5 separate regions of the Homo sapiens genome follow, and all the other regions are linked to region 4. Evidence: fine-mapped expression QTL. A gene starts in region 4. Each other region holds a variant in brackets. All regions are shown on one strand. Distances are from middle to middle.

Region 1 (6,458 bases), 210 kb after region 4:
ATAGCCTCCTGTAAATTTTATTTAACAAAGGCAAATGGAAAACTGTTTTAGACATGCAAGGATGCAGAATGTATAACAATTATACAACATTTGAAAAAAATAACTGTTGGAGAAACTGAAACCAAATAAAAGTTCTTCTGAAAAAAACAGCTGAAGAAAAGGGAACATGTAGGATACAAAAGTGATAAGCCATTTTTAAATCAGAAAATCTTATAGTTCAATTTTAAAATAATTTGTCATGTATAACAACATATAATGTAATAATAAATGAAAGGCTATGAAAAGAGGTATAATAGAAAAAATAACAACAGTATTATACTAAAATATCTGATTATTTTCACAAACCTGGGAATGATAGCTGGGGAAAACAAGAAAATGCTTGCTTAAAGCCTTACCAATTAAAGGAATTACATAAAGGTTCTGCTCTCCAACCCAGACAAACCACAAAATAGCAAATGTTGAAACTCAACATCTGTTAAGTGATTATCATATGCCAGGCATAGCTCTAAGTACTTTACATTTATTATTAAATAACTCCTTTAATAAGTCTCAAATATTTAAACTATCCTGTAGGACAGGGCTACTGCAAGTGTAATTCTGGATCAGCAAGGACTAAGAGCTTGTTAGAAATGCAAGTTTTTGGGCCCCACCCCAGACCAACTGAATCCAAATCTCTGGGGAGGTGTCCATGAATCTGTTTTAATCAGCTCTCCAGGTGATGCTTTTGCACCCTAAAATTTGAGAAGCACACATCTCCTCAGTTAACGTGCTAGGATGAACTGGTATATTTCAAATGCATTAAAAGTTTACCAGGAAATAATGATCTTCTTAGACTTCTGAGAGCCCAGGCAACACCTGAAGCAACCAGAGTCCCAGAACATTGTCACTGTCCTCTCTGTGGGCTTCTCAGAAACTGGCTGAAACAGACGTGTGTCTGATGGGACCCTCTGTTCCCCACAGACAGTGAGCACTGTAAGTGATGTCTGGCATCACCACTCTGCCGGAAGCCACTGAGTGAAGGCTAGGAGATGCTTTAAACAATGTGCTGCTGCCTTGGTGGCTAAGAGGTTCCAGGTGCCCAGAGGAGTGCAGCATACACGCAATAATGTAGCTCATTCAGAGAATCAGAGTGGGCAGTTATCAGTTAGGGGCCTCTTGTGGGCACAGCTCTAGAAGGTGGCCCCAAATCTCTGCCTTTACATAGTCTTATGCTCATTTCCGTCTTAACTACCTGGTAGCAACTGTTCTTGCTTTGCATGTGCGTGCTGCAGAATAGCACTTCCTTATGATGAAAGAAAAACTTAAGTACATTTCAATTTTAGAGAGTTTATCGGAGCATTCAGAGATTCAAGAATTGGGGCAGCACCAGACCACAAGGGGCTATCACTCCATCAAGAAAGGCAAGAGGGGAAACTTTCATGCGCGTCCGTGTGAAGAGACCACCAAACAGGGTTTGTGTGAGCAACATGGCTGTTTATTTCACCTGGGTGCAGGCGGGCTGAGTCCGAAAAGAGAGTCAACAAAGGGAGATAAGGGTGGGGCCGTTTTATAGGATTTGGGTAGGTAAAGGAAAATTACAGTCAAAGGGGGTTTGTTCTCTGGCGGGCAGGAGTGGGGGTCGAAAGGTGCTCAGTGGGGGTGCTTTTTGAGCCAGGATGAGCCAGGAAAAGGACTTTCACAAAGTAATGTCATCACTTAAGGCAAGGACTGGCCATTTACCCTTCTTTTGTGGTGGGATGTCATCAGTTAAGGTGGGGCAGGGCATATTCACTTCTTTTGTGATTCTTCAGTTACTTCAGGCCATCTGGGCATATACGTGCAAGTCACAGGGGATGCGATGGCTTGGCTTGGGCTCAGAGGCTTGACATTCCTGCCTTCTTATATTAATAAGAAAAATAAAATAGTGTTGAAGTGCTGGGGCGGTGAAAATTTTTTGGGGGGTGGTATGGAGAGAGAGTGGGCGATGTTTCTCAGGGCTGCTTCAAGCGGGATTGGGGCGGCGTGGGAACCTAGAGTGGGAGAGATTAAGCTGAAGGGAGGTCTTGTGGTAAGGGGTGATATTGCGGGGATGTTAGAAGAAACATTTGTCGTATAGAATGATTGGTGATGGCCTGGATACAGTTTTGTATGAATTGAAAAACTAAATGGAATAACAGAAGGAGAAAAACAGGTATAAAAGGTCTAAGAATTGGGACGACTCAGGATAGCTGACTAGAGAGTGCCTAAGGAGATTCAGCATAGTCCTGCCAGCAAAGATTATTTATTTACTTCAAGAGTTAAGAGTGGCAGTTTGGGGATAGCACCAGGAGATATCAGCTGTGATGGCTTGGAAAAACAGTGTAAACCGGCAGTGTAAACAAGAGCAGGACATGTATGAGTAGTTGAGAATGGTGAATAGGAGTATGACTAGACAGAAGATAGTAGGGATGACAAGTTTTTTTGGGGGCACAGTCTAAGTTGGTCTGGTGTCTGGAATGAGACTGGGGCCTAACAAAAAGGAGAGTCTATACAGGAGCTTAAATGGGCTGTACCCTGTAGCATTCCGAGGACAGGCCTGAATTCTGAGAAGGAAAAGTGGTAAAAGTATTGTTCAGTCCTTTTTAAGTTGGTGGCTGAGCTTGGTGAGGTGTGTTTTTAAAAGACCTTTAGTCCATTCTACTTTTCTTGAAGATGGAGGACTGTAAGGGATATAAAGGTTTCACTGAATACTAAGAGCCTGAAAAACTGCTTGGCTGATTTGACTAATAAAGGCTCATCTGTTATCAGACTGTATTGAGGTGGGAAGGCTAAACTGAGGAATTATGTCTGACAGAAGGGAAGAAATGACTGCGGTGGCCTTCTCAGACCCTGTAGGAAAGGCCTTTACTTATTCAGTGAAAGTGTCTATTTAGACTAAGAGGTATTTTAGTTTCCAGACTCGGGCATGTTGAGTAAAGCTAATTTGCCAGTCCTGGGTGGGGGCAAATCCTTGAACTTGATGTGTAGGGAAGGGAGGGGGCCTGAATAATCCCTGAGGAGTAGCAGAATAGCAGATGGAACACTGAGAAGTTATTTCCTTGAGGATAGATTTCCATGATGGAAAGGAAATGAGAGGTTCTAAGCGGCAGGCTAGTGGCTTGTACTATAGCATAACCTGCCTTTGCTGGTGTGCAGCGATTAGGCTCGGTGGAACCATCATCAATAAATCAAGC[G/A]TGATCAGGGTGAGGAACAGGAAAGAAGGAAATCTGGGGAAATGGGGTGAATGTCAGGTGGATCAGAGAGATACAGTCATGGGGGTCAGGTGTGGTATCAGGAATAATGTGGGAGGCTGGATTGAAGTCTGGGCCAGGAACAACGGTAATTGTGGGAGACTCAACAAAGAGTGAGTACAGCTGAAGGAGCCGGGAAGCAGAAAGTATATGCATCAGGTATGAGGAAGAAAATAGATTTTTGAAGTTATGAGAACTGTAGAGAGTGAGTTGAGCATAGTTTGTGATTTTGAGGGCCTCTAAAAGTATTAAAGCAGCGGCAGCCGCTGCACGCAGACATGAGGGCTAGGCTAAAACAGTAAGGTCAAGTTGGACAGAAAGGCTACAGGGTATGGTCCTGGCTCTTGTGTAAGAATTCTGACCGCACTAACCATGCCTACGAAGGAAAGAAGTTGTTGTTTTGTAGAAGGAGCTTGGATTTGAGAGATCAGTCGGACACGATTGGCAGGGACAGCACGTGTGTTTTTATGAGAATTATGCCGAGATAGGTAACAGATGAGGAAGAAATTTGGGCTTGATTGAAGCAATGGGGGCTGTCTGTGAAGCTTTGCTGCAGTACAGCCTAGGTAATTTGCTGAGCTTGATGAGTGTCGGGGTCAGTCCAAGTGAAAGCGAAGAGAGGCTGGGATGAAGGGTGAAAAGGAATAGTAAAGAAAGCATGTTTGAGATCCAGAACAGAATAATGGGTTGTAGAGGCAGGTATTGAGGATAGGAGAGTATATGGGTTTGGCACCACAGGGTGGATAGGCAAAACAATTTGGTTGATAAGGCGCAGATCCTGAACTAACTTCTAAGGCGTGTCTGGTTTTAGGACAGGTAAAATGGGGGAATTGTAAGGAGAGTTTATAGGCTTTAAAAGGCCATGCTGTAGCAGGCGAGTGATAACAGGCTTCAATCTTTTTAAAGCATGCTGTGGGATGGGATATTGGTGTTGAGTGGGGTAAGGGTGATTAGGTTTCAATGAGATGGTAAGGGGTGCATGATCGGTCACCAAGGAGGGAGTAGAGGTATCTTATACTTGTGGGTTAAGGTAGGGGGATACAAGAGGAGGACGCAAAGAGGCTTTGGATTGGGAAGAAGGGTGGCAATGAGATATAGCTGTAGTCCAGGAATAGTCAGGGAAGCAGATAATTTAGTTAAAGTGTCTCAGCCTAATAAGGGAACTGGGCAGGTGGGGATAACTAAAAAGGAGTGCTTAAAAGAGTATTGTCTAAGCTGGCACCAGAGTTGGGGAGTTTTAAGAGGTTTAGAAGCCTGGCCGTCAACACTCACAACAGTTATGGAGGCAAGGGAAACAGGCCCTTGAAAAGAAGGTAATGTGGAGTGGGTAGCCTCCGTACTGATTAAGAAGGGGATGGGCTTATCTTCCACTGTGAGAGTTACCTGAAGCTCAGCGTCCGTGATGGTCTGGGGGCTTCTGAGGTGATCAGGCAGTGTCAGTCTTCAGCCGCTAAGCCGAGAAGATCTGGGAAGGAGTCAGTCAGAGAGCCTTGGGCGAGAGTTCCAGGGCTCTGGGAGTGGCTGCCAGGTGAGTTGAACAGTCCATTTTCAGTGGGGTCCCACACAGATGGGACGCAGCTTAGGAGGAATCTCAGGCTGCGGGCATTCCCTGGCCCAGTGGCCAGATTTCTGGCACGTGTAGCAAGCTCCTGTGGGAGGAGGTTCTGGAGGAATGCCTGGCCACTGCGGTTCAGGTGTTTGGAAGTTCTTGTGTGCTGGAGATGTGGCTGGGGTTTGTCTCACAGTGGAGGCAAGGAGTTGCAACTTTTTTCTGTTATTGTACACCTTGAAGGTGAGGTTAATTAAATCCTGTTGTGGGGTTTGAGGGCCGGAATTTAATTTTTGGAGTTTTATTTAATGTCGGGAGCAGATTGGGTAATAAAATGTGTTTTGAGAATAAGACGGCCTTTTGACCTTTTAGGGTCTAGGGCTGTAAAGTGTCTCAGGGTTGCTGCCAAACAAGTCATGAACTGGGCTGGATTTTTATATTTGATGAAAAAGAGCCTAAACGCTATCTGGTTTGGGATAAAGAAAAAGGAGCATTAACCTTGACTGTGCCTTTAGCTCTAGCCACCTTTTTAAGAGTAAATTGCTGGGCAGGAGGGGGAGGGCTAGTCATGGAACGAAACTGTAAGCCGGACCAGGTGTGAGAAGGGGCAATGATAAAAAGATTCTAGGGTGGAGGAGCAGAGGCTGAGGAAGAATAGGGACCTAGCTCGGCCTGGCGAGGAGCAGCCTGGGGAGGAAGGGAGAGGTCAGATGGGTCTGTAGAAAAGGAAGATTAGAAAGACTCAGAGACACTTGGGGTTGGTACTGAGGGGACAGGCAGGAGGGAAAGAAGGAAGATTTGGGATGAGTTGCACTGGGCACAGAGACTAGGAAGGCCCTGTTGTGTAAAAGAATGCCTGGATGTCAGGCACCTCAGACCGTTTGCCTATTTTATGACAAGAATTATTTAGATCTTGTAGGATGGAAAAATTCAAAGTGCCATTTTCTGGCTATTTGGAACTACTGTCGAGTTTGTATTGGGGTCAGGCGGCATTGCAGAAGAAAATAAGGCATTTAGGTTTTAGGTCAGGTGTGAGTTGAAGAGGTTATAAGTTTTTGAGAACACAGGCCAAGGGAGTAGAAGGAGGAATGGAGGGTGGAAGGTTGCCCATAGTGAAGGAAGCAAGCCTAGAGAAAAGAGAGAGTAGAGAAACGGAGGGAAGGGGTTTGGGGGTTCTTACCTTCCAAAAAAGTGGGAAAAGGGGTTGGGGCACAGAGATAAGAGGTCGGAGCATGGAAATAAGGGATTGGGGTGCAGAAATGAGGGATTGGGGCACAGAGATATGAGGTTGGGGCACGGAAATAAGGGATTGGGGCACAGAGATATGAGGTTGGGGTGTGGAAATAAGGGATTGGGGCACAGAGATAAGAGGTTGGGGTGTGGAAATAAGGGATTGAGGGTTCTTGCCCCATAGAAAAGTGGGACTTGCCACTAAGGGTGAAGGAGAAGGGGTTGAGGGGTACTTGCCCCTGCCCCAGAAAAGCGGGACTTGCCGCTAAGGGTGAAGGACCAAGGCAGGCATCCCTGCGTGGTCTGACACCCTTGAAACGTGAGTGTATAATCAGAGAGGCATCCCTGCAATCATTAAACACCAAGGGAAGGCTGCCTTCCCAGTCCGTGACTGGCCCCGGAGTTTTGGGTCCCCGGATAAAATGTGTCTC
Region 2 (6,458 bases), 160 kb after region 4:
TTAGCCAGGACAGACTCGATCTCCTGACCTCATGACCCGCCCGCCTCAGCCTCCCAAAGTGCTGGGATTACAGGCGTGAGCCAGCGCGCCCAGCCAGGTTTTAAAAAAAATTATGAATTACTTACATGCTATATTTTTGCCATCACTTTATTGCTAAAATTTATCAGTTATTTTGCTTTAGTTGAGTCCCTTGTAAACACCTTATATTTAAATTTTACTTTTGATATAATTTGAGAATATTCATCTTTTAATTCAAATCTAAATTATTCACATTTATTTTTATAAATATGGCATTTGGTCAAACTTTATCATCATATTTTTCTATTAGTATGTTTTCATTTTCCTAATTTTACACTTTTTTGCTTTTTCTTTTTTCTAACTTTGCGCTAGTGATTATCTTTCCTTCATATTTTACTTGCTAGTTACTGGTTATCTGTGATTTTTTTTGAAAAAGGGTGTCACCCAGGCTAGAGTGCAGTGGTATAATCATGGCTCACTGCAGATTCAACCTCACAGGTTCAAGTGATCCTCTCACCTCAGCCTCCTGAGTAGCTGGGACTACAGACGCGCGCCACCACTCCTAGGTAATTTTAAAAATTTTTGGCTGGGCACGGTGGCTCACGCCTGTAATCCCAGCACACTGGGAGGCCGAGGCGGGCAGATCATGAGGTCAGGAGATCAAGAACATCCTGGCTAGCATGGTGAAACCTCGTCTCTACTAAAAATACAAAAAAAAATTAGCCGGATGTGGTGGCGGGCACCTGTAGTCCCAGCTACTCGGGAGGCTGAGGCAGGAGAATGGCCTGAACCCGGGAGGCGGAGCTTGCAGTGAGCCGAGATCGCGCCACTGCACTCCAGCCTGGGTGACAGAGTGAGACTCTGTCTCAAAAAAACAAACAAACAAAAAAATTTTTAGAGATAGGGTCTCACTATGTCACCCTGCCTGGTCTTGAACTTCTGGGTTCCAGCGATCCTCCTGCCTCAGCCTCCTAAAGTGCTGGGGTTACAGGCGTAAGACACCTCACCCAGCCTGTGATTTTAAACATTGCATTTGAATTTGAATCACTTTCCAGAATACATCATGATTTTTACATACACCCTATAAAAGAAACAGTTTATCACACGTTTGCCTCCTCACTTATCTCCCTATAACCCCAAGTCCCAATGATCTGAATATTTTAGATTCATATCACAATTTTTTTTAACAATGCATCTTCTCTTTTAAAAATCACAGATGGGCTGGGCACAGTGGCTCACGCTTGTAATCCCAGCAGTTTGGGAGGCCTAGGTGGGTGGATTACCTGAAGTCAGGAGTTCAAGACCAGCCTGGCTAATGAGGTGAAACCCCATCTCTACTAAAAATACAAAACTTAGCCAGGTGTTGTGCTGCGCACCTGTAGTCCAAGTTACTCAGGAGGCTGAGGCAGGAGAATTGTTTGAACCTGGGAGGCAGAGGTTGCAGTGAGCCAAGACTGCACCACTGCACTCCAGCCTGGGTGACAGAATGAGACTCCATCCCAACAACAATGACAAAAATCACTTATGAACCTATATGTTATTTCAAAATCACATGAACAGGAATTATTTAAACAATTATTTCAGAGGAGTTATTATTTATCACCTTTTCTTTCTACCACATCTTTCACTTTCTTGAGTCAATCCTTTTTTCTAAATATTTTCTTTAATTTTGTTTTTGTCTGACATTCAATGAGCCTTTCTAACCTGAAGATACGAAGTTTTCATTAGCTCAGGAAACATTTATTTTATTTATTTGTATCATTGATTCCCCTAACTGTTCTGTTCTTTCCTTCTAAAAGAAAAAAAATTTCAGGAACATTTACTCTAGATTTCAATTTTGCTCCAACATTTATTACTGTCTTGAGAACCTCTATGACAATTTAGGTCAAGGGACAATTTATTCAAAAAAGAACAAACCATCTACAAATTCTCTTATCATGTGAGCCTCACTCCCATTCCGCATCCAGTGTGGTTTCCCACAAAGATGTTTGGAGAAGAGAATCAATGGAGGTGGAAATCTTTGGTCCAGCAGTTGGATGAGTCACAGGACCTTTTGGCCCATCTATTTGTTTCAGAAGGAACAAGCATAATATGTGTGTGCAGATTTCAACACTACATGGACAATAGCACAGCTGTTATTGTTGTGTATTCTTCTGCAAGAGGCCATGAACCCAAAAGCCTTGTGGTGAGGGGTTAAGACTAAGATTTTATTTCTTCTTTGTTAGTTGTTCTTTGTTTAGTTTCTTCTTTGTGCTTAAAAATATATGAAGTCATTACATGTGAAAAAAATAGATGTACATTATTTTAAGGTCCCATTCTGTAAAACGTGGTACAAATATGCATTAAATGAGAGACCTCAGTATAATTTAACTATCAGTGTTCAAGTTCAGTTTTTTCAACTCTGTATCTCCTCATTCTTGATTTAATATTTGGTTCATTTCTTGCCAAAATAATTATGTCTTTGAATAACTTTCAATGAAATGTGCATAAATAATTCATTTTCAGAGGCCGTATTTAAGTGAGACTATATCTATTCTCTTATCACATAAATTGCTGGCTCATAAACATTTCCCACAAAGTTCTTTAGACTTCTTGAAACTATTTGATTTCTGTCCCTTGTGAAATTCAAAAACTTCACCAATCTGCCTCCATGTGGGTCTCTTCTCATTATTATTTTTGCCTGAAATACAGGGAATATTCTCATTCTATAGAATCACATTTTTTTAGTTTATGAAATTTTCTTTAATCTATTATGGCTTCTGATTCACAGTAAATAAATGCTTCCTCAGAGATGCCTATTATCTGTATGTTGGATCTTCAGACTCTGTACTCCTTATTTTTCATCATCTCTCTTTCATCATTTTTTGCTCATATTACTTTCTGCATTGTGGAAGAGTCTCTCAACTTTGTGTATCTAGCACTAATTCAATAATATGCAATACCCATGTTTCACTTTCACATAATTAAATAAGTTTAATTATGATCTTTTTAGATTGCTTTTATTATTCTTTCTCTGTTTTAGTCAACCAGTCATTTCACCATTTCATTTCATCTACCATCTCCCCACTAAGATTTTTTTTTTTTTTTTTTTTTTTTTTTTTTGAGACAGAGTCTTGCTCTGTTGCCCAGGCTGGAGTGCAGTGGTGTGATCTTGGCTCACTGCAAGTTCCACCTCCTGGGTTCACACCATTCTCCTGCCTTGGCCTCCCGAGTAGCTAGGACTACAGGCGCCTGCCACCACGCCCAGCTAATTATTTTGTATTTTTAGTAGAGACGGGGTTTCACAGTATTAGCCAGGATGGTCTCGATCTCCTGACCTCGTGATCTGCCCACCTCGGCCTCCCAAAGTGCTGGGATTACAGGCTTGAGCCACCACACCCGGCCAAGATTTTTTATTTTTATCTTTCATGTATTGTTTCATTTAACAATGTTTTGGATTTTTATAAATAAAATGTATGTTGTTTCTAGTATGTTTTATTTTCTTATCATAAAATTTAGTATTTATATTTCTGTGTCTTCAGTAATTAGCCTTACCTAGTCCCTGTACCAATGAAAAAATAGAATGTGTCCATCCACCTCTATTTCTGCAGCACTGCTCTGTGAGTCATGCTGAATACTATTCTTATTTCTGACTTCCTTTGAAATCCTCTTGAACAGAATTGAGCAAGAGGTGAGGCTAGGAAGGGGTGCAGTAATAATGATGGTAGCCACCATGCATTTAGAGTGCTCTAGGCAGAAGCAGACAGGAATGATAGAATTTTATGTGACTCATCTCCTCACAGAAAGTCAATGCAGTGTGAAGAAAATAAAGTTAAATAGAGTAAATATAAACA[C/G]AGTCAACAGTGTTAAGCCTTTTTAAGCAGAAAAACCCTATTTTTAAAATAAAAATGTCACATAGATTTCCAATAAGAAGAAAAGGAAAAAAGCACACTTAACAATAATTCTTCCATGAACATAAAAGTCACACAAGTTGTATCTGAAACTTGCACTCCATTCCTGTGCCCTACCAGGGTTAAGTCAAAGTATCATGGAGATAAGTATGGAAATAAGGGCCCTCTCCAATCAGAGCTGTCCTCAGAAAAACTGCATAATTATTAATGCTATTATTATTATGCATATTTATTATTAAACCTAGGAAATGAAAAACAAACTGCACATTCAACTCAGAAAGCAAGAAGAACAAAATATATAAAAGTCAAAGTAAGAAGTTATGATAAGAAGAAGAAAACTAGTTAGAAAAACAGGAGTATAATAGGATATACAACTAGTTCTAAAGGCTGGGCCTTCTATTTTAAAACTCATTAAACAGGAAAATCTCCAAAAAATCTAATTAAGAAAAATGCAAAAATTTAAAGACACAATATTAGAAATAAGAAAAAAGCTGTATAGCAGCTACTGAAACTTTAAGAAGTATATAAGAACACAGTACTTAGCACTTGCACTGTGCATAATCACTATTAAAAATAGCAGAAGTGTGGGAGATGTGGAAGTTTTATTTACAAGATTTCCAAATTCGTTCTTTGAGACTAACATAGCCTTGATGTCACAGCCAGAAACACACACACACAAAAACTATAACCCAATATCAGTTGTGAAGATAAAGCCAAAAGTTCTAAGTCCAACACGTGCCATTTGAATTCAATACATTATGTATTAAACAGTCCACACCATGACCAGGTAAGGTTTATTTCAGAGGGTCAGATATGAATAGAAACTATGTCAATTAATTAATTCTACTAAGGAAGAAAAACGAGAAAACATGTTAATTTTAGACTTGAAGCAATAAAAGCATTCTCAAAATGTAAGAAAAAAAGAAAGGCTGTGACCATGATCACAGCCATCAAGCAACATGATCTGGGAGAGGCTAGCTATTGCCTATGATGAAAAACTAATATTATCTTATTTTTATGAATCATAACAAGTAATACAAGGTTATTGTTTTAAAATATTAAACAAATAAATGATATAGACTTCCACAACTCACTTTCTGGAGATAACCACTATTGAACCACTATACATGAAAATATTCATGTATTCTCTTCCAGGGTATTTTTGTTCCTCAAACTTTTAATTGCATCAATAAATATGTGGTTATAGAAACTAAAATATTTTAACAATACATTGAGATAAAAAGTAAAAATCCCTCTTACTCCTCCCTGCTATTACTTACCTCATGGAAACAAGAGTTCACAATTTGATATGCATACTTCTGAAACTCTTCTGCATTTCATATATAGGATATGCAAATATTATCTTTCTTAAATATTTGAGATCTATGATCTATAAATATGTATATATACATATACAAATAACATATATATGCACACATATTATATGTATATATATTTCTCTGCCTTGCTTTTTTCACTTAAATTTAAATCTGAACTCTTTATGCAGCTGAATTAGAGAAGCCCAGCTGGATTTATGACCTAGCAGGTCTTTTGACAGTGCAAAGGCTTCCCCTGCAGGTCTTACTATAGAGAACACAGAATACATTATCTGGTTCGAAGAGAGAATAAATAAATGACTAGTCCAGTCTCTTCTGATCTCACCAATCAGATAAGTCATCACTCTTTTCATGTCTTCACATGTCATTGTGAGATGAAGAGAAGTGTGGAAACCATTTTCCCCTACTTCTTAAAGGGTGAATATTTCTGTTTCTAGGGCCAAAGCAGGAAGGTAGGGAGAGGAACTAAGATAATTCCAACCACACGGGACATAGAATATAGCACAGAAGTACTACAATTTATTTAATCATTTGCCTATTAACATTTTTTGTTACAAATATTGCCATAATAAACAGTAGGATAATGAATGCTTCTGGAATAAGACTGCTAAAAGTAGAATTGCTGGATCACAGAGCATATACACTTTTATTTTTATATATTGTTTTATATTTTAATTCTAAAACCAAAACATGAATATGGCTTTAAAAGTTCCAAAAGTACAGCAGAGTAGAAAAATTGAAAACCATTATCTCCCTTTAAAATTTCTATTGGCCACCATAAAAACTCCAACATTTATTATACCACTATTTTCCTGATTTATCAATCTAAGATCTTAGTTGCTGCCTCCCAGCTATAAAAGATAAAAAGGCAGTACATTTAAACTATGATCCATCTTCTCTCACACCAAAGCCAAAATCCATTCTCAATATCTCTCTCTGAAGTATATAAAGGATGTGATACTAAAGGTTATGTAAATGCCCAACAGACTGTCTAGAAACAAATGCATATCAAGGCTTATCATTGTGAAACTTCTGACAAAGGAGGCAGAAAATGGATTTTGCTAGATTCCAGAGAGAGGAAAATAAATACCACAAGCTTTATTAGCAATGAGAATGGCTTTAAGACTTTCAGTAGCAATATGGGAAGCTGAAAGACAATGGAACAATAATTCAAAATGCTTTTTTAAAAAGTGATTTCCAACTTAGAATTTTA
Region 3 (6,458 bases), 180 kb after region 4:
AAAGAGGCTTAATTGACTCACAGTTCTGTGGGCTGTTCAGGAAGCATAGCGGCATCTGCTTGTCTTCTGGAGAGGCCCCAGGAAACTTACAGTTATGGCTGAAGGCAAAGAGGGAGCAGACATGTCACTTGGGCAGAGCAGGAGGAAGAGGGTGGGGGACAGGAAGGTGCTACACACTTTTTTAAACAACCATATCTTATGAAGACTCACTCACTATCCCGAGGACAGTATCAAGAGGATGGTGCTAAATCAGTCATGAAAAATCCCACCCCCGTTATCCAATCACCTCCCACCAGGCCCTACCACCAACACTGGGGATTACAATTTGACATGAGACTTGGTGGGAACACGGATCCAAACCATACAAGCTTTTAAGTCTATCAGGATCCAAGAGAGGTCCCTAGTTTAGTATCAAGTATCTGAAATATTTGACATTCCTTGGTAAATTGGAATTTTCTCTGGAAACTTTATGGCCTTTGTCTGCTAGAATTTTAAGGATATAAACGCTATCATGTTCACAAGCCTCTTTACAAGGAAAACAAAGGTTATCAACCTACTGAGAGTTGACCCTTGGGGAAAATAAATGTCCGTTAAATCTGTCTTCAGTACCTGTGAAAAGTGAGAGGGGCCTTCAGTACATCCTCGAGGCATTTCTGTCCAGGTATGTTGTTGTCCTTTCCACGTGCAGCAAATAAAAATTGTCTCTCAGTGTCCACCAGAACCAGTGCCTTTAAAAAGCACTACAAATGTCTATCACTGTGAAAAATTTACTTTCTGTGGAGATGAAAGTCAGGAAGGTACATAGATTTGTAACGACAGTGTCGAATAATGATATCGTTATCAATGGCTCTTAGGGCCTGTGCAAATCTCCACCATTGCCAAGAGGTTTCTTTACAGGAAAAACAAAAGTATTACAGGAGCTAGGAAAAAGCGGTACAAGCTTCTCACCGTGTGAAAGAAAATGAAGTAATTAAGGCTAAGGCTTTAAAGTGGAGACAGGAGATTGCAAGGGGATTGCACTCACACCTGCTAAAGGATTACAGAATGTTCCAGCTGACTTGGATAACAACTGAATTCAGTGTCTGCAGCCCTTCAACATCTCTCAGCTGGGAGTATCCTAATTAACCAATCAGAATGGGTTTGTATTTTAGGATTTCTGCCTAGCCAATGAACTGCCTCAAAAATTAACTTTTTGTGGAAGTCACCTAGAAATAAAAGTATAGATCAATGAAACAGAACAGACCCAGACAACAGACCAAAGTATATCTAGGAGCTAAAAATAAGATAAAAGAAGTATTTCAAGTTATTGCAGAAAAGATGTTATTCAAAAGTGGTGTAAGACTAGACTATTCTTTTGGTAAAAAAAAATACTGGATATCTAGCTTATACCACAGCCAAATGTAAATGTGTCCGTGGGAAAAATTGGAAAATGTGTTTTAATGAACTTTAGGTTGGATAGATTTTTCTGCAGATGACACCAAGAACACGATTCAAAATGAAAATGGTGACATATTTGATCCCATACATGTTTTAAATATTTGTATGAGATATTGGAAAGAAACTGTAAGGTAACTAAAAAATACTTGAAATCTATTCAATTCAATCTAGTATTTATATTATATAAAAAGTACTCACAAACAAAAAAATCCAATTTAAAATATATATAAATATTACATATTATATAATATAAATATATAAATATAGGATATATATTTTAATGGGCTGTATACATACATAAATTCATTTAAAATAAAATACATATAGGATAAAGGGCTCAACTTTATTCATGATCAAAATAATGCAAACAAAATAATAGCGATATATTAATTTTTACCTATCAGGTTAGCCAAGATTTAAAATGTAAGCATAAACCCCCCCCCCATTGCTAGCAAGGCTAAGGAGGAAAGGGAAATTTCATACATAGTAGGAGTAAAATGTTTCTGGAGGGAAACCTGGCAACATTTAGAGAAGTTAAAAATATAATTTTCTTTTATAAAAAGAATTGCACTCATAAGAATTTATTTTAAGAAATAAATCATGTAAGTGCAAGGATATTCATTTGCGTATTCTGTATAATAGTGGAAAAAATTGGAAACCACTTACTTGCTCATCCAAAGGAGGATGTGTAAGTAAATCCAGGACCATTCATATCATGAGATACTATCTGTAGTTGCATAGAAAAAATGCCCATGGTCGTCTATTAAATTACAAATAAAAGGATTCAAAACAGTATATATAAGATAATTTAATTTCTATAAGTAAAAATATGTATGCATAAAATTTGCAGGGACTATAAACAAAAAAAGGAAACTGGGAAAGTGTACAACTAGATATTATATCTCTAAGCTGATGGGAGTATGGATATTCTCCTTGTTTTTATTGCTTGTCTGTATTTTCTAGCCTTTTAAAGCATTTATTTCTCTGTTAATTTTCCAAAATAAAAATTTTAAATAGGAAAAAGAACAAAGAAAGAAACTTTTCTTTGCTAGATTTAAAATGTATCCTAACAATAACAAAGTAATAACTAAAACAGTGTAGTGCACTGGCCCAGGAAAATAATAAGCACATAAAGGAAAAGAAATATGATATAAATATTTATAAACACATATAGATGAATATATTTTTAAAATATGTGGATATTTCAATAAATTGTGCAATAAATATAGGGTTTTTTTGGAAAAGTCACAAAGTACCAGAAATGTAGGTGAAATTTATAAACCCTTAAGGGTAGGAAAATTCTTTCTAAGCATGGTATCAAAGGCAGAATCATGAAGGTAAAACAGATTTAATGCACAATTTAAAAGTTCTGTGGCCAGACACAGTGGCTCACTGTGCAATTCCAGTACTTTGGGAGGCCAAGGCGGGAGGATTGCTTGAGCCCAAGAGTTTGAGACCAGCTTGGCAATATAGCAAGACCTATCTCTACAAAAAGTAAATAATTGGCCAGTCAAAAGTCATAGTGGCACACACCTGTAGTCCCAGTTACTCATGAGGCTGTGGTACGAAGATCAGTTGAGCCCAGGAGGTCGAGGCTGCAGTGAGCCCTGATTGCAACATTGCACTCCAGCCTCGGAGACAGAGAGAGATCCTGTCTCAGTAAATAAACAAATAAATAAATAAATAACATGTTCTATGTACTTAAAGTATACCCAAATCAAAAATAAAATGAAAGTTTTGAAAAATATTTGTTAAGAAATGAAAAAGACAAATGCTCATAATATATAGTTTTCACAGAATAAAAATGTAGCTATGATTATATCTCTATTGCCTAGTGTTTTTCACATCCACAGTCCACATCAGAAAACAGCAATCCTGGGTTGATTCTTCTGCCTCAGGTACTATAATTTTCAATATATTGCATATAAAACACACCCTGTATCCCGGCCCCAACTGAGTGGAACAAGCACCAGTGTGTGCTCTGGTTATCCTTTTTCTGACCTGGTAACAATCTTTTCTTGCCCTTCGCTGATCAACTCTGCTCTGTGCCCCAGTGGGCTGCACACACGCATGCGCACACACACACACACACCACACACACTGCACCACCCAGGCTCTTAGATCTCTGCATTCTGGTTGGGTCTAGCCGATTGAAAGCACCAGCGAAAGGTTGGAAGTGTGGGAAGAGAGGTTAGGGGATGTAGTCTCTGGTTTCCTCCCTGCTCCCCCTTGCACTGTGGTTCTGGCAGTGTCTAGTGCCTCTACC[A/G]TTAGTGCTCTAACCAGGCAACCCCCTGCCACACGTCCGCCACTCAGGTGACACTAATTCCTTATCACCATTTCAAGCCTAGGGTCTTAATGGCTTTATTTTTAGTTAATGTTGTTACTAGTCTCTGAGTGCCTCAACATCCCTCATGATTCCCCTTAATTCTGCCCATACCTTGGTAAACAGCCTCTTCATTAAATTCTCTCCAAAATCTCCACGAGTTCACCTTCATTTCCTATAGTCCCTGCCTGAGAAAGTGGATGAACGCAATGCTATCAAAAATTGGCAAGGAACTGCAACCTCCTCTGAGTTGGCTTAGTAAGATTGTATACCTAATCAGAATGATCCCCATTAAGATGACGCATCTCCCTATTTATATCTCCTTTAGGTGAACTCAGAGGAAGTGGGTCACTGAGTTCCAGCTGTATCTGGATGACCCTAAACTCTTGTAACTCTCTATGATGCCAATGCACTGGAAGCCCTGGGAGTCATAGGGGGCTTGTTGTTATAACCCAGATTTCAACAGGCTTTTCTAACTCCTTGAGACCTAGAAAAGTCTCTGAAATTTTAGCCAACATCAGACTTATGAGACTATAAATATTGGAACAAAACAGGTAAATTATCATTACTTCCTGATGATGCTCATGAAGCCCAAGAAAATCAACTAAAAAGAATACTATGTATAAATAATTTTTCCATAGCTGACTAGTTCCATATTTGTCATAAATTATTTTTTATTCTTGATTTTTCCCTCTTCCTAATGTCCCATTGTAATGGGATCTTTGGGGTGTCACTCTTCTGGCCAGAAACCTCTGTGGCTGGCTGGTGACACCTTTGCCCAAGTTCTTGTCCTATGTCCAGAAAGAATGAGGTATGCAAACAAGTGGAAGTTGAACAAGATGAAGAGGAGCTTTATTGAGTGTTATGACAGCTCAGAGGAGACCCACAGAGGGTAGCTCCTCTCTGTAGGCAGGTAGTCCTGTCAAGTGTTCAGCTCTCAGCAGAGAGGAGGGCCTGGAGAAGGTAGCTCCTCTCTGCAGGCAGGTAGTCCTGTCAAGTGTTCAGCTCTCAGCAGAGAGGAGGGCCTGGAGAAGGTAGCTCCTCTCTGCAACTGGTCATCCTGATATCTGCAGCTCTCAGCAGAGGAGGCCCTGGAGAGGGTGGCTCCTCTCTGCTGGCAGGTCATCCTGTGATCTCTACAGCTCTCAGCAGAGAGGGTAGCTCCTCTCTGCAGCTGGTCATCTCATTATCTCCAACTCTCAGCAGAGACAGTATCTCCTCTCTGCGGCTGATCATCCAGTCCTCTCTCCATCCTCTGCTGGCTCTTGCTGAGCCCGTGGCTTTTATGGACCTCAGAGGGGAGGAAGTGTGTGTTGATTGGTCCATGGCGGCCATGGGTGGCAGGTCCTGGAAAAGGCACCAGAAGCCCCCACTCCAGTTTGCGGGACTGGCGGCCCAGCCCCCAGAATTCAGGCCCTCCCTGGCCTGAAGGTGGGGCCTTACTGGGACTGCCCTCTTCTGCCCAGGAACCTGTTTGCCTCCTGCTGCCATTCATGGTGCCAAAGCTCACCCAGACTTCTCTAAGATCTGAGCAGGTACCAACAGCAGGGGAGAAGCCAGGCAGGCAGTGGGAGCAGGCACTTCTGAGTCTACAAGGGCAGGGGTCCTTCTCAGCCCCCAAGAGTTCAGGGATGCAGGGAAAGGGGGAGGGTCTGGCTCCTGCTCCTGCTCCTGCTGCACGAAGTGGGAGGCCCGGATCTGTAGCCACTGATCCGGTTGTTGCAGCTGCACCTGGGAGGGTGGGGCTCCTGCCTGTTCCATGAAGCAGGAGGCCCAGGTCTACAGCTGCAGTGTGGGTAGCTGCAGGGCACCCTGGGAGCTCCAACCCCAACTCGGAACAGGCAGGGCTCCCGCTTGTCCAAGGATCCCGCCAGCTCCATGGAGCATGCAGCCCTGGCAATGCCTCCCTGCTGCTGCCATCACCATGACCTATCAGTCACTAAGTGAGCAATTCTATGTGATATTTCTTGAAATTCTCCATCTGACTCCATTTTTATTTTGACTGCCCAGACTATCCAGGGTCAACAGCAGTCAAGGCCTCTTTGCCATGGCAGCAACCCATGAGTCAGCCAAGATGAGCAGACAGGCTGCCTGAAGAGCCCACCGGGACAGGGGCTTCTGAGCTCCACTCAGAAGTGGAGCAGGTAAATGATCAAGGTGGCAGCAGGTAAATGATCAAGTGAACTGATTCATGAACATTAAAATGAAGCAGAAAACACTAGATGTGTGTGTGTGTGTGAATGCATGTGGGTGAGTGTGTGCTTAACTTTAGATCCCAATAGGGACACGTGCTTTTCAAATGCTTATGACACACACAAATTGGCCATAGATTCAGCTGCAAAGAAGTTTTTAATAGATTTCCAAAGATAGAAGTCATATAGAGTACAGTGTTTATCGAAATAAATTAAAACTGAAAATGATAACAGAAAATAGAAAAAAAAATTCTAAGCACTTAAAAATGAATACCTCTTATAAATATCTTGAGTTTTTAAATATATTCCTTTTATGGCATAACTAGAAATGGATCACTATCATCAAAGGAATGCATTGTATATCACTATTTGTCCAAAGTGGTAAACTGAAGAAAACTTGTAGCCTTAACACTATTTAATTTAAAATTAGGGTGATTTATAAAATGAAATATTCAATCAAGGGGGCTAGAAAAATACCACTAATCATAATGCAAAAAGTGGTGGAA
Region 4 (6,458 bases):
ATGTCAAGAATCGTGGACTGTGAAAAGATAAAGCCCAGACACTACCGCTCAGAAAGAAGAGTGGTGCTGGCAACCCTGGTCTAGATGAGAGGTAGTTAATTTGAGATGACTGGCTGTAAGTATGTGTCAACAGAGGTAGCAGTTAGAAGTGGTGAGATGTATTTACTTATTTTTATAACACAGTTGATGCAGACCTGTTGCTCTAACAATATGAACAGTGTCTGTGAATGAAGGTAAAATAGTATAAGATATTGCAGAGTCCAGCTGAAGAGGTTTGGAAGAAAGGCAAGGTGAGGGCTGGGGAGCCTTTCAACACATACTCCTATTTCTCTAAGCCTCTTAGGGAAATGGTTTGGATCTACCACTTTTCTCATACTCTTAACTATTTGACCCCTATAGCTTCTTCAAGCCTATTCTTTACCCTACCTCTCCAATATACTTTCTAATTTTTGCTTATCCTATTTGTGATACTTGATTTGATTCTAAAATGACTTACTATGTACAAGTAAATACTTTTTCTTATGACATTCATCACATGCCATGATGACTATTCTGTCTTTCAACCCAACTAGGCTGTAGGCTCCTCAAAGATATAAACTTAACCTTAAAAATATCTATATCCATAATATCTAGCACAGTTCTTGATGCATAGAAGTCCTTGAGACTCACCTGCCAGGGATAGGAACCCTTCTCCACTTGGCTTCCTCCAAGAATGCGACTGAAAATGTTAAAATAATTCCAAGGCTGTACCTTAACCAGACTCTGCCCACAACTGGGAGCTGAGAAAAAAACGAGACAAACTAAATGATTAGATAGCTTCTAGGATTGAGGTAATATCTTCTCCATTTCACCCATGAAACTGAGTCTGAGACTATGGTGTATGGTGCTCAGCACACATTCAGATATCAATAAATCTTTATTGGATTTAATTCTCTTGAGGGATGAAAAGTGACAGGTCATTTAAGGAGAGTGGAGTGAAGTGTCCTGATTCACAAGTTGGTACTCGGATAGAGGTTTGCTAGGTAATAGAAGAAAAAACTCCTCCCTCTTTATGTAAAATACTTTATCCCTGAAAAAGTTGTTTTTATTTATTTGCCCTCAATGGGTTTTCTGACTCCTCAGCAAAGAGGTAGACTAGATTAAAGATGTTTAACATCACCTGGTAACTCAAGGATGGCACATCTTCTGTCCCTCCTGGAGGTCATCCTTTTCCATATTTTGAAGGAGGATTAGAACTAGCCTTGCTTCATAATCACCATGCTTCATTGCCTACCTAAATTCTGTAATTCTTATTCCTCAGCTTGGAGATCACCTCAACCAGGAAGTCTTCCTTGATTTCCTCAAAGTGGGATTGCCTCTCCCTTGTGTTGTGTAGCACGCTTTCTTCACCCCTTTTATAGTTCTTGTCATGCAGAATTGTGATAATGAATTATTTGCCTCTATCATCGGACTATGAACTACTCAAGGGAAAAAACTTGCCTTATTCACCTCTGCATTTCTAAGGTTTAGCTTAATTCTTGGCATAAGTAAGCACTTAGAAACACTGGATGGACAAACAAATGACTTTTCTTGAGAACACATCCTTAAGAGTATAGCTATTTAGATCAACATGTTAAAATATTCAAAGCTCTTTCATACAGCTTCTCATTTAATCCCACTCTATGCCTATAAATGAAGCACTGTTATCCCCACATTGCAGATGAGAAAACTGAGAATCAAGGAGACACACAGCTGGATAATGGCAGAGCATGAATGTAACAGTAAGTGTTTTGATCCTGAACCCAGTGCCAGGATGACATTGGAACAAAAGCTTATTTTCTAACTGTTTCAGTTGAATGAGTCATAAATACTTTAAATACAAAATTTACTATTTCCCAAATTCAGTAAAGCAAAGTCAGAAAACATGTTGATTCTCAGGGTTGGCACAAGTCTGACCAAGGAGAAATCTTCCAAGAACTGTTTTCAGCTTAAGTTAGTTGAAGGGGAAAAAAGACCATTTATAATATACTACAGTGAACATGCTTCATATTTCTCAGCAAGATGATTTTGTAAAAGATTAAAAATGCTTCCAAATCCATGCTGATTTCCAGAATTTGCTCTATGAACCAAGATGGGATTATGTAATGGGTTCAAGTAAGTGAACAATCTCAGTTCACTTAGGAAAACTAAGCGAAGAAAACAGGGATTGTTTACTTAATTGGATACATTAGTTGCATTCTATAAATGTTTCACCCTGTGTCCTATGCCGATTGCAGGAGATAAGTCCAAAATAATTGTTTAAAAACAATTAGATATCCAAAATATATTTGCTTCTCCTATTTTCCCAAAGGAACATGGAGTCTCGGAGTTGTGACGTCCATTGCCAGCAAAGGTTCAGACAAAGGTAATTATAGAGTTCATTTGAAACTTACCTTTGGGGAGCGAAAGAGTTGCAGATTTACCTCGTTCAAAAAAGACTATTCCTAGTAGTAAAATCAGCTTGTTCCTGCTTATAAGCATTTTGAGACTCATAGTTTTTCCCTGAAATTTTAGAGAGACTAAAGCAAACAAAAATAGGAAGCCTTGAGAGACCAGCAATAAGCCAATTTAAAACAAGTTTATTCATTAACCAAGACGTGGTGAATCAAGCATGTCCATCTGATGTTTCTGAATGTAGTGTTTCGCAAAGATCTTTTGGAAGATGTGGAGAAACAACCACAGAAGCAGAGTCTTGATCAAGCAATATTACATATCCTATTACACCTACACCAATTAGTTGATTCCTCCAGAGTGTATCTGGCTAGCAAAGTGGTTAGCATGTAAGATTTGCATCTGCAAACATTACTTGCTCCTTTGTAGAGCTTACCACTTTTACCACTTTCTATAAGAAGATTGACTATCAATGTTGTCCTTGTTTGCAAGGGTACACTTCCCTACTTTTTTGCAAACGACCCATCCAAATGTATATAATTTTTTTGGGCAGAGATGGAGTTTCATCATGTTGCCCAGGCTGATCTCAAACTCCTGGGCTCAAGGGATCTGCCTGCCTTGCCCTCCCAAAGGTCTGGGATTACAAGTGTGAGCCACCACGCCCAGCCAATATTCTAAAATATTTTTATTTATCTTATTTTGCAAATGTAACTACATGGTTATTATAAACATATGTTGGTGAATGAGAGAAGTGGAAAGATATTTGGGTGTCACACTCAGGAAGCCCTGCTGTTAGAAAGTCATCTAGGATACTGTACATTGGGGCATTTGTGACTCTGCATTCTCCTATCATTTTTGTATTTATAGAAGGGAAACACTAAATCTCCTTTACTTCTATGCCTGGTAGATGCTTGGGAGAGTAAAGTGGCTATGATTACCTGTACATTTTCCTCTTTCCTCAACGAGTTTTGGGCACATGGTCAGTGTGTGAGAAATATTTATAGGATGGTCAATGCCATCTATGACCAGATAGAAATATAACATTTTTCTGTCAACTTTTATAAGTTACCCACTAAAAATAACAAATGTCAGCCCAAAAGCTCTTAATTTCCTTTTGGCAACTTTTGTCTTTGTACAAAAAAGTATGAAAATACAACACATACAAATAATATAAATGCAAAACAGAGAAGGTGTAAAAACTTAACATTTGTAAGCACTACATATTTAGGTACACTAATCAAGAATGTAGCCTTATGGAAAGAAGGAAACTCAAACCTCTATTGAGGCTTTATCTATAACTACTGTAATCCTGATGCCAAACATTTTTGGCTATTGGTATGGAGTGATAGCCCCAAGAGGTAATCAATCAATGTCTAAGCCCTAATCAAAGTCTCAATCTTTCTTTGACAGCAAGCTCCCTTTAAATTGCTATTGTGTTTTATCAATCACTTTTGAGAGCAACTTGACTAGGAATATGGCCTTTCTGACCCCAAATTCACTACATTCTGTCTAAAATGTGTATACTGTTAATGTCAAAAGTGCAGAAAGACCTAGTGTGGGCCTAGGATGCACTAAACTTGACAAGCCTAAAGTAGGCACATAGCATAGGACAATAAAATTTGACTCTATACTGAAAGAATGATGAGTTTTCCTTTGTAAAATGTGGGAGTGGAGCGTTTTTATTGATTGTCACACAGAAATATGATGAGCTCTTGCTTAGTGCTTAATTTCAGGAGAGGGTATTTGCTTCAAGCTCTTGCATCAGCACAACTATCAGTACACATCAACACACTCTTCACCACATGAAGCTGGTCATTAAGAGTTTGTTACTTTCATCTCTTAAGGGGCTAAAATGTGGCCCCCTTGCTGTTAAAATATTTGCTCTTCATGGGGGATGTAGCAGGTTCTAAGACACTATATTTTTGTAAGTCCAGCTATTCAACCCTCCCAGGGTCTGGATAGGAATTATAATAACTGTACATTGTAGTTACTTGCAGACAGGAATATATTAAAGTGTTGCTTGGCATGGTAGTATAAAATCAATTTTTCATTCATGAAACTATTAAACCTTTTAAAGGGGAAAAAATCTCTCTTGAGAATCTTGGACCAAAGTCTGCACCAAACATGGATTTGGAATTCAAATACATTGTTTTCCCTGTCTGTAAATCCCCAAGTTGAGAAATTAGTATCAAAATTTCTCCTGAAAGCAAAACTGTCTCTCTTCACAGATGATATGATTCTATACCTAGAAAATCTCAGGTCTACCTGTTATAACCTTCTTCTCTCTTTTTTGCAGCAATTATTTTTGTTGAAAGAATTGGTTATTTAGACCTTTAGCATTTTCTACATTCTGTATTTTGCTGATTGCAGAGCTGTGACTTTAATGTGTTCCTATAACCCTGTGATATAATCCATAGCTAATGATTATAACTTCTGTATTGTACCCTCCAATGAAAAGAGAACAACTCCAGTATGAGCAATCTCTCTCTGTCTTTTCAGATTTTTCTGTCAAAACCTTTCACCTTCTGACAGACCTCAGAACACTCCAACTTTGTTGCTGTGTCTTCCTGGGTCAATCCACACATTTGAGGTTCAATAAACCTTTATAGATTTTTTTCTGTCTTGACAGCCTCAATTTTGGTCAACAGTGCCATAAACACTCATCACCAGGAATGTTCTCAGCCACCTCCAGTGGCCCAGAGAAAGTAACAGAATGTACTGTCTGGTAGAGAGTCCCAGGAGTTGGGTTTCTGGACCTGTCTGCTTCTCATTCTCCCTGAAGTTTCCAGCCACCTGGAATTGCCCTGCCCCATGGGCCCAAATACCCCCTCACATCTCCCTCCCAGGGGAAAACACCAACTGGTTCTTACTTGGAATAAATTGGAGTGGGTCTACTCCAGAACTTTTTCAGCAGTTTTCTCCTAACAGGCATGTTAGGTTGTGGTTCTTTCCTTAATTGAATTCCATCTACTTTTTATCGTTCTAGAAATATTCATAATTTGGGGCCACTAAAAGTAGCTTTCCTTGTTCAGGTTTTCCAGCACTGCTATGAGTTCATTTGTTTAATACATCCTTCTTATCATAAATTTGGAGCAGGAGCAGGAGGACACACCGTATGGTCTCAGGCTGCCAACTTAATCCAATCGCTAAGTGGGAACCACTGAATCCTCCTTTATAAACACCTTGCATATTCCCTGTTGCAACTAAGAGATGACACTAAAGGTACATGCAAGGTAAGTTGAAGTGTAAAATAATTAAGAACAATCTGAGAATGCCTCAAGGATAATCAAAAACAATAAGGGTATTTTTAAAAATAAATTTTAAAAGGGAAGAGATGATTTGGAACTGAGGGATGATATGAATCATGCAAAGGAAGGATCACTTTGCCCCTTCTCACTGTTTGAGTCTTAGAATAGAAATGGGAGTACTCCAGAAAGTGGTTTAGTTATACCCAGGAATTTCAGCGATACTGGAGAAAGGAAGAGTGGGGAAAGTTCCTATACATACTAAGCACAGGAGATAGATAGCAAAGAAACAAACTTAGGCAAAAGTGAGCTGGCCAGAAATGAGAGGGAACAGAAGGGAAATCGTGTAGGGATTTGCCTGAGTCAGTGTTGGCAAAAGCAAAAAAATTCACACACAGGTATGAAGAAAACAGGAAAATAGGGGAAAGGAAACAGGAGTCTGTTTGGAAAAGATACAATTAGCCCCCGTATTCTTGTTGAAAACTTGATGTGTTATGCTTCAGTCTCTGTAGTTTGTCTCCAAGATACTAGCTTTTATGAAGACAAAATTTTCATGGTATGACGGAGAAAGGAAGTTAGCAGGAGATGTAGATGAGTGAGAAAGCCAGAAAAAAAGAAGTAGTTTAGGACAATAAAAAAGTTATCTCCAACAATTATGAAGTGGTGAAGGAGGCCAGTTGAGAAGATAAATCGAGCAAGTGCATCTTTCTTTCTTTTGTGTCAGTTTTGAAGCTAGTGATTGGTAGGAGCCAAAAAGAAAAAGAAAAAAAGGGATCAAGTTTCAGCTTTCCACATATGGCTAGC
Region 5 (6,458 bases), 110 kb after region 4:
ACAGGCAACCTACAGAATGGGAGAAAATTTTTGCAATCTACCCATCTGACAAAGGGCTAGTATCCAGAATCTACAAAGAACTTAAACAAATTTACAAGAAAAAAAAACAACCGCATCAAAAAGTAGGCAAAAGATAGGAACAGACACTTCTCAAAAGAAGACATTTATGCAGCCAACAGACACATGAAAAAATGCTCATCATCACTGGCCATCAGAGAAATGCAAATCAAAACCACAATAAGATACCATCTCACACCAGTTAGAATGGTGATCATTAAAAAGTCAGGTAACAACAAGTGCTGGAGAGGACGTGGAGAAATAGGAATGCTTTTACACTGTTGGTGGGAGTGTAAACTAGTTCAACCATTGTGGAAGACAGTGTGGTGATTCCTCAAGGATCTAGAAGTAGAAATACCATTTGACCCAGCCATCCCATTACTGGGTATATACCCAAAGGACTGTAAATCATGCTACTATAAAGACACATGCACATGTATGTTTATTGTGGCACTATTCACAATAGCAAAGACTTGGAACCAACCCAAATGTCCATCAATGATAGACTGGATTAAGAAAATGTGGCACATATACACCTGGAATACTATACAGCCATAGAAAACGATGAGTTCATGTCCTTTGCAGGGACATGGATGAGGCTGGAAACCATTATTCTGAGCAAACTATCGCAAGGACAGAAAACCAAACACTGCATGTTCTCACTCATAGGTGGGACTTGAACAATGAGAACACTTGGACAAAGGGCAGGGAACATCATACACAGGGGCCTGTCATGGGAGCGGGAAGGGATGGCATTAGGAGAAATATCTAATGTAAATGACAAGTTAATGGGTGCAGCACACCAACATGGCACATGTATACATAAGTAACAAACCTGCATGTTGTACACATGTACTCTAGAACATAAAGTATAATAAAAAAATTAAAAAATAAAAATAAAAAAAGAAAATACACAGAGGAGATATTAGGTTGGTGCAAAAGTAATTGTGGCATTCTTATAGAATATACAAAATAGCCTCAAAAGGACAAATCTAAGAGTTATTGGCCTTAAACAGGGGGTAGAGAAACAGATAGGGGAAGAAAGTTTATTCAAAGGGATAAGAACAGAGAACTTCCCAAAACTAGAGAAAGCTATCAGCATTCAAGTACAAGAAGATTATAGAACACCAAGCAGATTTAATCCAAAAATGACTACCTTAAGTCATTTAATAATGAAACTACCAAAGGTCAAGGATAAAGAAAGGATTCAAAAAGCATCAACAGAAAAAAAAAATAACTTACAATGGAGTTCTAACATGTCTGGCAGTAGACTTTTCAGTGGAAAAGGCTAGGAGAGAGCAGCATGACATATTTGAAGTGCTGAAGTAAAAAAAAAAAAAAGGTTACCTTGCAATAGCATATCTGGTGAAAACATCTTCAAACACGAAGAAGAAATAAAGACTTTCCCAGCAAACAATAGCTGAGGGATTTCATCAACAGCAGACCTGCACTACAAGAAATGCTAATGGGAGTACTTCAAGCAGAAATAAAAGGACGTACATGAGCACTAAATAATCACCTGAAGGTACTAAACTCACTGGTAGTAACTACACAGAAAAACACAGAATATTATAACACTGTAATCATGGTATGTAACTACTCATACCTTAGTAGAAAAACAAAATGATGAACCAATTAAAAATAATAACTGCAACAACTTTTCAAGACATAGACAATAAAGTATAAATAAAAACAACAAAAAAATTAAAAAGCAGGGGAGATGAAGCTAAACTGTTTATTGGTTTTCTTTTTGTTTATTTGTTTATGAAAACAGTATTAAGTTGTTATGAGCTTAAAATAATGGGTAATTACAAGCCTCATGGCAACCTCAAACCAAAAAACATATTATAGATATACAAAAAAAAGCAAGAGAATAAATTATATCACCAGAGATAATCACCTTCATTATAAGGAAGACAGGAAGACAGAAAAGAAGGAAGAGAGGACCACAAAACAACCAGAAAACAAATAACATAATGGCAAGAGCAAGGCCTTACCTATCAATAATAACATTGAATGTAGTGGACTAAACTCTCCAATCAAAAGGCGTAGGCTGACCAAATGTATGAAAGAACAAGACCCATTGGTCTGTTTCTGCCAAGAAACACACCTTACCTATAAAAACACACATAGACTGAAAACAAAGGGATGGAAAAAGTATTCCATGACAATGGAAACCCAAAAAACACCAGGAGTCACTATATTTATATCAGACAAAATAGATTTCAAAACAAAAACTGTAGGAGACAAAGTGTCACTATATAGTGATAAAGAGGTCAATTCAGAAAGTGGATTATAGCAATATTAAATATACATGCATCCAACACTGGAGCACCCAGATATATAAAGGAAATATTATTAGAGCTAAAAAGAGAAATAGACTCAATACAATAATAGCTGGAGACTTCAATACCCCAATATGCCTGATGAATATTGATGCAAAAATCCTGAACAAAATACTAGCAAATCAAATTCAACAACACATTTTTTAAAAATCATTCATCATGACTAAGTAGGATTTGTCACAGGGATGCAAGGATGGTTCAACATACGCAAATCAATCCAATGTGGTACATCATATTAACAAAATGAAGGACAAAAACCATATAATAATTTCAACTGATGCTGAAAAAGCATTTTATAAAATTCAACATCCCTTCATCATAAAAACATTTAAAAAAACTATAGAAGGAGCATACCTCAACATAATAAAATCCATATATGACAGACCCACAACAAGTGTCATACTGAATGGGTAAAAACTGAAAGCCTTTCCTTTAAGACCTAGAACATCACAAAGATGGCCACTTTCACCACTGTTATTCAACATAGTACTGGAAGTTGTAGCTAGAGCAAACAAGAGAAAAATATAAAGGGCATCCAAATCAGAAAGAAAGAAGTCAAATTATCATTATTTGCAGATAATATAATCTTATATTTGGAAAAATCAAATGACTCCACCAAAAAAACTATTAGAGCTGATAAACAATTTCAGTTAAGTTGCACAATACAAGATCAACATTTTAAAAATCAGTAGCATTTCTATATGCCAACAGTGAATAATATAAAAAAGAAATAAAGAACAGAATCCAATTCACAACAGTCACAAATAAAATTAAATAACTAGGAACTAACCAAAGAAGTGACAGATATCTACAAAGAAAACTGTTAAACACTGATGAAATAAATTGAAAAGGACACAAAAAATGG[G/A]AAGATATTCCATGCTTGTGGATTAGAAGAATCAATACTGTTAAACGGTCCATACTACTCAAAGCAGTTTACAGATCCAGTGCAATCTCTATCAAAATACCAATGACATTCTTCACAGAAATAGAAAACACAATCCTAAAACTTATATGGAACCAGAAAAGAGCCCAAGTAGCCAAAACTCTCATAGGCAGAAAGGACAAAACTGGAGGAATCACATTACCTGACTTCAAATTATGCTACACGGCTATAGTGAACAAAACAGCATGATACTGGCATAAAAATGGATGCATACACCAATGGAACAGAAAAGAGAACCCATAAACAAATCCACACACCTATAGTAAACTCATTTTTGACAAAGGTGCAAAGAACATACACTGAGGAAGAGAGAACGTACACTGGGGAAAAGACAGTCTCTTCAATAAATCATGCTGGGAAAACTGGATTTCCACATGCAGAAGAATGAAACTGACCCCTGTTTCTCTATATATACAAAAATAAAATCAAAACGGATCAAAGACCTAACTCTAAGACCTCAAATTATTAAACCACTACAAGAAAACATTAGACAAAGTCCCCAGAACATTGGTCTGGACAAAAATTTCTTGAGCAATACCCCACAAGCACAGGCAACCAAAGCAAAAATGGGCAAATGGGATCACCTCAAGTTAAAAAGCTTCTGCACAGCAGATGATACAATAAACAAAGTGAAGAGACAACACACAGAATGGGAGAAAATATTTGCAAACTACCCCTCTGACAAGGGATTAATAACCAGAATACATAAGGAGCTCAAACAACTCTTTAGGAAAATATCCAGTTTTTAAAATGGGCAAAAGATTTGAATAGACATTTCTCAAATGAAGACATACAAATGGCAAACAGACATATGAAAATGTATTCAACATCATTTGTCATCAGAGAAATGCAAATCAAAACTACAATGATATATCATTTCACCCCAGTTAAAATGGCTTTTATCTAAAAGATGCAATAACAAATGCTGGCGAGGATGTGGAGAAAAGGGAAACCTCGTACACAGTTGGTGGGAATGTAAGTGAGTACAAGCACTATGGAGAACAGTGTGGAGGTTCCTCAAGAATAGAATTACCATATGATCCAGCAGTCTCACTGCTGGGTATATACCCCAAAGAAAGAAAATCAGTATATCAAAGATATCTGTACTCCCATGTTTGTTGCAGTAATGTTCACAATAGCCAAGATTTGGAAGCAACCTAACTGTCCATCAACAGATGAATGGATAAAGAAAATGTACATAGACACAATGTAGTACTATTTGGCCGTAAGAAAGAATGAGGCCCTGTCATTTGCAACAATGTTAATGGAACTGCAGAGCATCATGTTAAGTGAAATAATCCAGGTACAGAAAGACAAATATCACATGTTCTCACTTATTTGTGTGATATAAACATCAAAACAATTGAACTAATTGAGATAGAGAGTAGAAGGATGGTTATTAGAGGTTGAGAAAGGCAGTAGAGGGTTGGAGGGGAAGTGAAGATGGTTAATTGGTACAAAAAAATAGAATTAATGAATAAAACCTAGCATTTGCTAGCACAACAGGGCGACTACAATCGATAATATTTTAATCATACATTTTAAAATAACTAAAAGAGTATAATTGGGTTGTTTGTAATACAGAGGACAAGTGTTTGAGCGGATGGATACCCCATTCTCTATCATGTAATTATTACACATTGCATGCCTGTATCAAAACATCTCCTATACCCCATAAATATATACACCTACTGTGTACCCATAAAAATTTAAAAAATTTTAAAAGGAAATAAAACTTTTGCTTTTATTTTGTTTTTCCATCAATATTGTTAAAAAATCTCTAGTATTGATAATTTATTTTTATTTTATTATTTTCTACATAAACGGTCATCTTGTATGATACTTTATTTCTTTTTTTCTATTGTTATGCCTTCTATTTCCTTTTCTTGTTATAGTGCCCTGGCTAGTGTCATCCATACCACGAAGAATAGAAATGCTAACAATGGCATCTCTTTCTCATTCTCAGACATGAAGGAAAAGCTTTCAAAACATGAGTAGTTTTTCCCAGATGAAGTAATTACACTATTTCAATTTTGCTAAGGCTTTTTAAACACAAATTGATGATAAAAATTATCAAAGTCTTTTTTGAATCAGTGGCTGTCATGTTTTTTTTCAAGAAAAAATAATATTTTTATTCTATTCTTTTTTATACTTTAAGTTCTGGGGTACATGTGCAGAACATGCAGTTTTGTTACATAGGTACACATGTGCCATAGTGGTTTGCTGCACCCATCAACCTGTCATCTACATTAGGTGTTTCTCCTGATGCTATCCCTTCCCTGGTCCCCCATCCCCTGACAGGCCCTGGTGTGTGATGTTCTCTTCCCTGTGTCCATGTGTTCTCATTGTTCAACTCCCACTTATGAGTGAGAACATGTGGTGTTTGGTTTTCTGTTCTTGTGTTAGTTTGCTGAGAATGATGGTTTCCAGCCTCATCCATGTCTCTGCAAAGGACATGAACTCATCCTTTTTTATGGCTGCATAGTATTCCATGGTGTATATGTGCCACATTTTCTTAATCCAGTCTATCATTGATGGACATTTGGGTTGGTTCCGTGTCTTTGCTATTGTGAATAGTGCCGCAATAAACATACATGTGCATGTGTCTTTATAGCAGCACGATTTATAGTCCTTTGGGTATATACTCAGTAATGGGATTGCTGGGTCAAATGGTATTTCTACTTCTAGATCCTTGAGGAATCACCACACTGTCTTCCACAATAGTTGAACTAATTTATACTCCCACCAGCAGTGTAAAAGTGTTCCTATTTCTCCACATCCTCTCCAGCATCTGTTGTTTCCTGACTTTTTTTTTTTTTTTTTTTTTTGAGATGGAGTTTTGCTCTGTCCACCAGGCTGCAGTGCAGTGGTGCGATCTCGGCTCACTGCAAGCTCTGCCTCCCAGGTTCACGGCATTCTCCTCCCTCAGCCTCCCGAGTAGCTGGGACTACAGGTGCCCGCAACCACGCCCGGCTAATTTCTTATATTTTTAGTAGAGACGGGGTTTCACCATGTTAGCCAGGATGGTCTCAATCTCCTGACCTCGTGATCTGCCCACCTCAGCCTACCAAAGTGCTGGGATTACAGGTGTGAGCCACTGCACCCAGCCTTCC

Direction of the effects. Alleles are on the strand shown, and positions count from the first base shown. SD is a standard deviation of normalised expression in the study named. Not every link is listed here.
For the expression in prostate of the gene that starts at base 2,582 in region 4, A is the low allele of the variant in region 1 and G is the other (moderate effect, 0.72 SD a copy in GTEx).
As copies of A replace G in region 3, the expression in fibroblasts of the gene that starts at base 2,582 in region 4 goes down (large effect, 1.9 SD a copy in GTEx).

The links. PIP is the estimated chance that this variant, and not a neighbour inherited with it, causes the effect. A credible set is the group of variants that fine-mapping cannot tell apart.
Region 1: its variant is the best candidate, but not a certain one, in a credible set for the expression of OVCH2 in prostate (GTEx, PIP 0.73).
Region 2: its variant is the best candidate, but not a certain one, in a credible set for the expression of OVCH2 in sun-exposed skin (GTEx, PIP 0.89).
Region 3: its variant is the best candidate, but not a certain one, in a credible set for the expression of OVCH2 in fibroblasts (GTEx, PIP 0.50).
Region 5: its variant is the best candidate, but not a certain one, in a credible set for the expression of OVCH2 in lung (TOPMed, PIP 0.62).

The regions. Positions count from the first base shown.
Region 1 is chr11:7,910,735-7,917,192 of GRCh38, forward strand. It overlaps LOC107984307 (a long non-coding RNA gene), which reads left to right. Exons shown (of 3, transcript XR_001748116.2): 3 at 1,323-1,425. Among named protein-coding and RNA genes, the nearest start is that of OR10A6, 17 kb to the right of the region's middle. RefSeq lists an enhancer at 1,564-2,064. The variant G/A (reference allele first, on the strand shown) is at 3,192.
Region 2 is chr11:7,867,581-7,874,038 of GRCh38, forward strand. All of the region lies in intron 6 of LOC283299 (a long non-coding RNA gene), which reads right to left. Among named protein-coding and RNA genes, the nearest start is that of OR5P3, 40 kb to the left of the region's middle. The variant C/G (reference allele first, on the strand shown) is at 3,852.
Region 3 is chr11:7,878,986-7,885,443 of GRCh38, forward strand. It overlaps LOC283299 (a long non-coding RNA gene), which reads right to left. Exons shown (of 8, transcript NR_036678.1): 2 at 3,875-3,948; 3 at 2,971-3,088; 4 at 2,104-2,164; 5 at 610-774; 6 at 22-98. Among named protein-coding and RNA genes, the nearest start is that of OR10A6, 49 kb to the right of the region's middle. The variant A/G (reference allele first, on the strand shown) is at 3,704.
Region 4 is chr11:7,703,896-7,710,353 of GRCh38, forward strand. It overlaps OVCH2 (ovochymase 2), which reads right to left and starts at 2,582. Exons shown (of 16, transcript NM_198185.7): 1 at 2,412-2,582; 2 at 670-779. The coding sequence starts at 2,499. It overlaps LOC105376533 (a long non-coding RNA gene), which reads left to right. Exons shown (of 11, transcript XR_007062576.1): 7 at 1,700-1,760; 8 at 2,330-2,383; 9 at 5,506-5,642.
Region 5 is chr11:7,814,800-7,821,257 of GRCh38, forward strand. No RefSeq gene overlaps it. Among named protein-coding and RNA genes, the nearest start is that of OR5P3, 13 kb to the right of the region's middle. The variant G/A (reference allele first, on the strand shown) is at 3,268.